2 linked regions of the Homo sapiens genome follow. The protein of the gene in region 2 purifies or fractionates together with the protein of the main gene of each other region. This does not show direct contact. Each region holds a gene or a part of one and is shown on either strand. Other genes may lie near its edges.

Region 1 (3,500 bases), on a different chromosome or scaffold from region 2:
GCTTGACACAGGATGCTAGCAGGGGGACAGAGCTGTGGGCTTATGACATGTGACACAGCAGAGGGTGGAGCTGACAAGACCTCCCGCCAGCCTGGACTGGGGACAGGTACTGTTAAAGAGAGGGATCTAGGATGCTTCGGGGCTTGGGGCTTGTGCAAACATCTGGTTTGTTAGTGCTACTTACCCATTGGAAAAGGACTAGCCTCTAGGGGAGACAGAAATCAAGAGTTCTGCTTTAAAGATACTATAATTTGAAATGCCCTTTAGACTATTTGATACTTACAACGATTAACACTAGAGAGGTCTTAGACTGCATCAGCATTCATTAACAGCAAACATTTATTTGACAAACACTGTATGTCATGCATCATGCCACACCGTGAACTGTGACCTGGGCACTTACTATGTACCTAGTACAGGTGTGTGTTAGGGTACAAGGGTTGGTTAGAGGGACACAGAAAGGAAAAGACATAACGCTTATTCTCAGGGCACTCAAGTAATCACGTGGGAAACTGACATACAATTCTCTTTACATTATACCATAAAAATAAACTGAGATGATGGACTACAAATCTAAATATGAAAGATAAAATAATAAAGCTTTTAGAAAAACATCTTTTTGACCTTGAAATAGAAAATTATTTCTAAAACATGAAAAGCATTAATCATAAAAGAAAAAACTGATATACTTAATTATATTAAAATGAAGAATGTGTATTCATCAAAGAAACAAAAAAGACAATGAATAGACAATTCACAGTGAGAACATATTTGCACTGTATGTGTGTGCGTGTGTGTGTGTATTCAAGGAACTCACTCTTAAAAATCAGAAGGAAAAAGCCAGACAATCCAACAGAAAAACAGAATAAAGACATGAACAGACACAACATAAAAGAAAATATTCAAATGGCCAATAATCATCTTTTAAAAAGCTTAATTTTGCTAATCATTAGAGAAATACAAATTAAAACCACAAAACCATACAACAAAAGATGAAAAATACCAAGAGTGGCAAGTATGTGGAGCAGCCAGAAGTCTCATACACTCTTGGTGGGAATCTACTAATGAGGAATACATGCAGATTCTATGACCCAGCAATCTCACTCATAGGGATACACCCAAGAGAAACTTGCATATGTGTTCATTGAAGATGTCAACTGGAACGGTCATAGCAGTGCTACATACAATGGCTTAAACCTGGAAACTACTCAAGCGCCCATCAGAGTGGAACAAATAGTTGTAATATAATCACACAATAAATTCCATACAACGACATGGATAAATCTCACAAACATAATGTTGAACAAAGCAGCCAGATACAAGAATACATACTGTACAAATCCACTTGATAGGAGGTACAGGCAGGCTAACCTCATCTATGCTGTTGGAAATCAAATCAGCTACTCTTTGGCAAGAGTAGTGACTAGAAGGGGACAGGTGAAAAAGAACTCTGGGGTTCTGGCCTCCGCCTCCCGGGTTCAAGTGATTCTCATGCCTCAGCCTCCTCAGGAGCTGGGACTACAAGTACGTGCCACCACGCCCGGCTAATTTTTGCGTTTTTAGTAGAGACGGGGTTTCACCATGTCGACCAGGCTAGTCTCGAACTACTGGCCTCAGGTGATCCGCCCGCCTTGGCCTCCCAAAGTGCTGGGATTACAGGCATGACCCACTGTGCCCAGCCAGGTTCTCGTAAAATTCTGTTTCTTGATCTGGATGCTAGTTACCAAGGTATGTTCAGTTGTTGACAATTCACTGAGCTGTACATGTATCATGTGTACTTTTTTCTATTTGTATTATACATGAATAAAAAATTAAAATAGCTAAATGGCTTTTACGAGTATACAAGTATTCAAACCTCGCACTTTGGTATTTACTATCACATAGTCCCAATTACTATGTCCAAGGTCTGAATTATAAAACATGAAAACTCATTTTATTCATAGGTATGCTTGGGGCAGTAAATTAATAAACACAAACATTGCAAGCTGAATTTAAACATACCTGGGGAGAGCCTGGCTTTGCCGCTGGAGGGGTTATCCTGGGTGATTTCTGTACCATTGAGGGCACTGGGCTTGAACTGCCCTGAGCAGATCGTCCTGCTTGAAAAAGAAGTCAGTTAAAATAGATGGCATTTATTACCTTTATTTCTCCTATCACAAATGTCCTTTCTCCAAATCTAAGAAATTAAGTTACACATTGCCCCTGGCCCACTTTCATGATTTATTTTAAAGAGTGATGACCACCAGTTGTGCTAGCCTCTGTTCTAAGATAATGAAAAAAATATATTAAAATTTTAGGAGCCAGGTATGGTGGCTCAAACCTGTAATCCTAGCCTTTTGGGAGGCTGAGGCAGGAGGATTGCTTGAGCCCAGGAGTTTGAGACCAGCCTGAGCAACATGGCAAGACTTTGTCTCTACAAAAAAATTTAAAAATTAGCCGACGGTGGTGGTACATGCCTGTAGTCCCAGCTACTCAGGAGGCTAAGGTGGGAAGATCGCTTGAGCCCAGGAGGTAGAGGCTGCAGTGATGTGCTTGGGTGAGAGAGTGAGAGGGTCTCAAAAAACAAAACAAAACTTCCTGTTTACAGTATGACTGACTGTGAAAATATGAATATAATCACTGCAGGTACTCTCTCCTCTGTACTTTTTTTTTTTTTTGAGACAGAGTCTCGCTCTGTCGCCAGGCTGGAGAGCAGTGGCGTGATCTCGACTCCCTGCAATCTCTGCCTCCTAGGTTCAAGTGATTCTCCCGCCTCAGCCTCCTGAGTAGCTGGGATTACAGGCACCCACCACCACACCTGGCTAATTTTTGTATTTTTAGTAGAGATGGGGTTTTGCCATGTTGGCCAGGCTGGTCTCGAACTCCTAACCTCCGGTGATCCACCTGCCTTGGCCTCCCAAAGTGCTGGGTTTATAGGCGTGAGCCACCGCACCCCGCCAAACAACTCTTGTGCCTGTGCTTCTTAAAGAACTGTTATGTAACTGCTCTTCATGGAGGGCAGGCTCCATATGAAAATAAATGCCCAAGAGCAAGGCATTTTTGACTCATTAAATACACTTAGCTCCATAAGAAGTGTCAGAGAGAAGAGTGGCAGCATTTAAGCAAGAGCAAATCTCCCAATTCAGAGTATGAAAATCACAGCACATTAATCATTAATGTATGATACAGGAAGCAAGAAAAAATAACCTTGTCCAACTATGTTAGCTACGACTCTTAACACTTAAAACCGTTAATCTGAGAAGGCAGGGCTGAGGTCTAAAGTTGTCTGCTTAAAATCATACCTGATGGTGAGGGCAAGACTGAGGACTTCAATGGCACGGAACTAGGTGGTGCTGAGAGAGGTGTGGGGTGGCTGAGTGGTCCAGAAGCAGCTGGCTTGGAGGCAGAAGAGAATGGCGACATCGGGGGTGCGCTCTGGGAGCTACTAACAGGAGTAGAGGTAGCTGCAGCAGTAAACCTGAAAAATGGCAGCCTGAAGGCCTCAGAAGAGCCTGCTAGAA
Region 2 (3,500 bases):
GGCTTATTTCACTTAGCATAATGTTTTCAAGGTTCATTCATGTTGCAGCATGTATCAAAACCTCATTCCATTTTATGGCTGACTAGTATTCCATTGAATGTATGTACCACATTTTGTTTATCTGTTCAGCTGCTGATGACCACTTGAGTTGTCTCTACCTTTTTGGCTGTTGTGAACAATGCTGTAATGAATACTGCTATACAAGTATCTGTTTTCAATTGTTTTGGGTAATACCTAGGAGTGGAATTGCTGGGTCATATGGTAATTCTGTGTTTAGCCTTTGAGGAACCGCCAAACTTTTCCACAGAAGCTGCACCATTATATAATCTCACCAGCAATGTATGAGGGTTACGATTTCTCCATAACCGTAACAACACTTACTATTTTCCATTTTTTAAATTACAGCCTACCTAGTAGTATGTGGTGGTATCTCATTGTGGTTTTGACTTGCATTTCCCTAATGACTAAGGATGTTGAGCATCTTTTCATGTACTTGTTGGACATTTGTGTACCTTATTTGGAGAAATGTCTGTTCAAGTCCCGTGTCCATTTTTAAATTGGTTTGTCTTTTTGTTGTAGAGTTTTAGGAATCCTTTATATATTTTGGATATTAAACCTTGACCAGATATATGATCTGCAAATATTTTCTCACATTCTGTAGATTGTCTTTTCACTTTCTTGATAGATAATGTCCTTTGAAACTTAACCTCTCTTTTTCTTAAGAGACAGGGGTCTCACTATATCACCCAGGCTGGCCTCAAACTCCAGGCTCAAGCAATTCTCCTACCTCAGCCTCCTGAGTAGCTGGGACTACAGGCATGCAACCGCTGTGACCAGCTAATTTTTAAATTTTTTGTGGAGATGGGGTCTCGCTTTGTTGCCCAGGCTGTTCTTAAGCTCCTGGCCTCAAGGGATCCTCCTGCCTCAGCCTCCCGAAGTGTTGGGATTATAGGCGTGAGCCACTGCCTGGTCCCAATTATTCCTCTCTTTCGCCTTGCCTTTCCTCACGTTCTTGTTATGAGACAGAATCTCTGCTGCCCAGGCTGGAGTGCAGTGGTGCAATCATGGCTCACTGGCTATACATGTTTCCTAACTTGAGTTTCAGTTTCCTCGTCCATAAAATGAAGGTAATAATAGTATCTACCTCATGATATTTCATAAACACTAAATAAATATAAGTGCCTGGCACAATGTAAGCACTCAAGAAGTGTTCACTGTAATTATTAGTAGTAATCATCATAATAATGATAAATTATAAAGGTCTACGACAGAATCAGTGACAGAAGTCACAAGATCTTATTTGAGCGAATCCATTATTATTCCCCATAAAAGAGTTGTGAGTAGCAGACTGACTCATTCATTCAAGGCCACCCCTTATTTATGAGCCGCGGCTTCATCCAGACCACAATATATATGCTCTTGAATACACACATGTATATACACGCAGAGCTGTGAACGTGGGCCCCAACACCACCAGTGCCTAAATCTCTCCTAATAAACACAGAATTTGTCAAATTCATACACTTCCGTTTACTTAAAGAGATCTGCTTCACATAAGATTAAGTTGTTTGGCTGGGCATGGTGGCTCACGTTTGCAATCCCAGTACTTTGGAAAGCCAAGGCAGGTGGACTGCTTGAGCTCAGGAGTTCGAGACCAGCCTGGCTAACATGGTGAAACCCCTGTCTCTACTAAAAATACAAAAATTAGCCAGGTGTGGTGGCACATGCCTGTTGTCTCAGCTACTTGGGGGGCTGAGGTGGGAGAACCACTTGAGCCTGGGAAGTCGAGGCTGCAGTGAGCTGTGATCATGCCACTGCATTCCAGCTTGGGTGGCAAAGTGAGACCCCGTCTCAAAAAAAAAAAAAAAGTATTTACGACTTCCATCAACTGATATAAAGATAGATGCATTGGACTAGAAAATATTAATTTTGTGCAGGTCTCATATATTTTCCAAACTCTCAGGCTTACATCAATCACACTGATGATCAAGAGCGAAGAAAGGACGAGGATGGGCAGAAACATCACACAGTAAGTGTAACATTCTCACATGTCCAAGACGATCAGTTCAAGTTGGTGTCTGAGGCCAACGGAACTGCTAACAATCCATCCTGAAAGCAAGGGTGGCTTCCTCGGTAAGTATAAACTATAACATTCCAAATCAGGCCCAAAGTACCTTTTCTGGAGATTCACACAATATATTTTCTGGTTTCAGATCACGATGAGCAATGCCTGACATGACAAAGAGCAAAAAAATGGTTAACATATGCAGATAATTATCAAACATTCCACACACAATTAATTTTTTCCAAATGCTGTAGTTCGCAGATTAATTCCCAATTATGGTACATTAAAAAATCAACGAGCTGCAGGAGGCAGAAGTAACCAGCGACACAAACCAAAAGCACAGTTGATTCTGCGGGTTCTTTTGAAGAGGAGGCTTTAGAAGTCTGGCAGGGATAAGAAGGGCTAAATGAATCCCAGCCAGCCTACCCCTCAGTACCACAGTGACCACCAAGAAGAAGGCCTAATGCAGAGCAGAGCAGAGAGCTCTGCAAACGGCAATGCTTGGAACAGCAATGCAGAAATAATTAGTGCCTTGTTTAAGAGCATCTCAGGGGGCTTAACTGCTCTACCTCATTTCTTCTTGTGTGGCCGATTTAAAAAAAAAAATTCCTTCAGTGCGACTGTCTGAATGTTCAGAGGAGCAAGTGTTAGTTACCAAATCTCCCAAAGTGACCTATTCCCTTCTCACCTGCTTTGCATGTCTAAGGCAGCCCTGCCAGCAGCAGAGCAAAGACCGCTTTGGCACCAGGATGCTGTTATTTTTGTTTTTTAAAATAGAGATGGAGTCTCGCTATAGCCAGGCTGTTCTTGAAATCCTGGCCTTAAGCAATCCTCCTCCCTTGGCCTCCCTAAGCATGGGGATTACAGGTGTGAGCCACCTCGCTAGGCCCACTGAGGGTTGCTGTTTTTAAGAGAAAACCTCTGCACTTTGGCCAGGCCTCCTGAAGGCGACTGGAGATAGCAGCTTAGCCCATGAGGGGTTAACCTGCTGACCTGGCCAAGAAGGCACCTCGGGGAGAGCCCTCTTCTAACCAAAGAAAGGGACAAAGAACTAACTCTGGGTCATGGTGTTTTGGTGGAGGACACAGAAACCTCCCTTTTGTCTTTCCTTCCACAGCACATGCAGCACAGAGACAGGGCTGGAAGGCTGAGCAAGAGTCAGAGCTACAGTTGGAAGTATTGGAAAGCGGCAGCGGATTCTCGGGGTGATGGGAAAAGCAAAATCTGCTTCACTAAAACTCCGTCGGTGATCAACTTTTTCAGCAGTCCTCCGATTCCCGACTAGAAGGCAAAAGCCTGGCCCAGGCCACGGGAGGCACTTCACTAAAGAAGAAAAACCTGAGCTCCAGCAAGCTCAGTAACTTCATCAGTCACCTAATTGAACGAGAACCCAGAGCAACTCAGTCCAGGCTGCACAAATTGAGTAGCACTGCTC

The links.
Region 1: the proteins of MKNK1 (region 2) and NUP214 purify together in Homo sapiens (affinity purification with mass spectrometry; one large-scale study listed by BioGRID and IntAct). This does not show direct contact.

Annotation. Positions count from the first base shown.
Region 1 is NC_000009.12:131,146,086-131,149,585, reverse strand, and holds part of NUP214 (nuclear pore complex protein Nup214), read right to left. Parts: intron 3,458-3,500; coding exon 3,282-3,457; intron 2,100-3,281; coding exon of another isoform or gene 2,097-2,099; coding exon 2,002-2,096; intron 1-2,001. UniProt on the Homo sapiens protein: Part of the nuclear pore complex. Has a critical role in nucleocytoplasmic transport.
Region 2 is NC_000001.11:46,566,269-46,569,768, forward strand, and holds part of MKNK1 (MAP kinase-interacting serine/threonine-protein kinase 1), read right to left. Parts: exon of another isoform or gene 2,231-3,500; coding exon 2,175-2,230; intron 2,030-2,174; exon of another isoform or gene 1,938-2,029; intron 1-1,937. UniProt on the Homo sapiens protein: May play a role in the response to environmental stress and cytokines. Appears to regulate translation by phosphorylating EIF4E, thus increasing the affinity of this protein for the 7-methylguanosine-containing mRNA cap.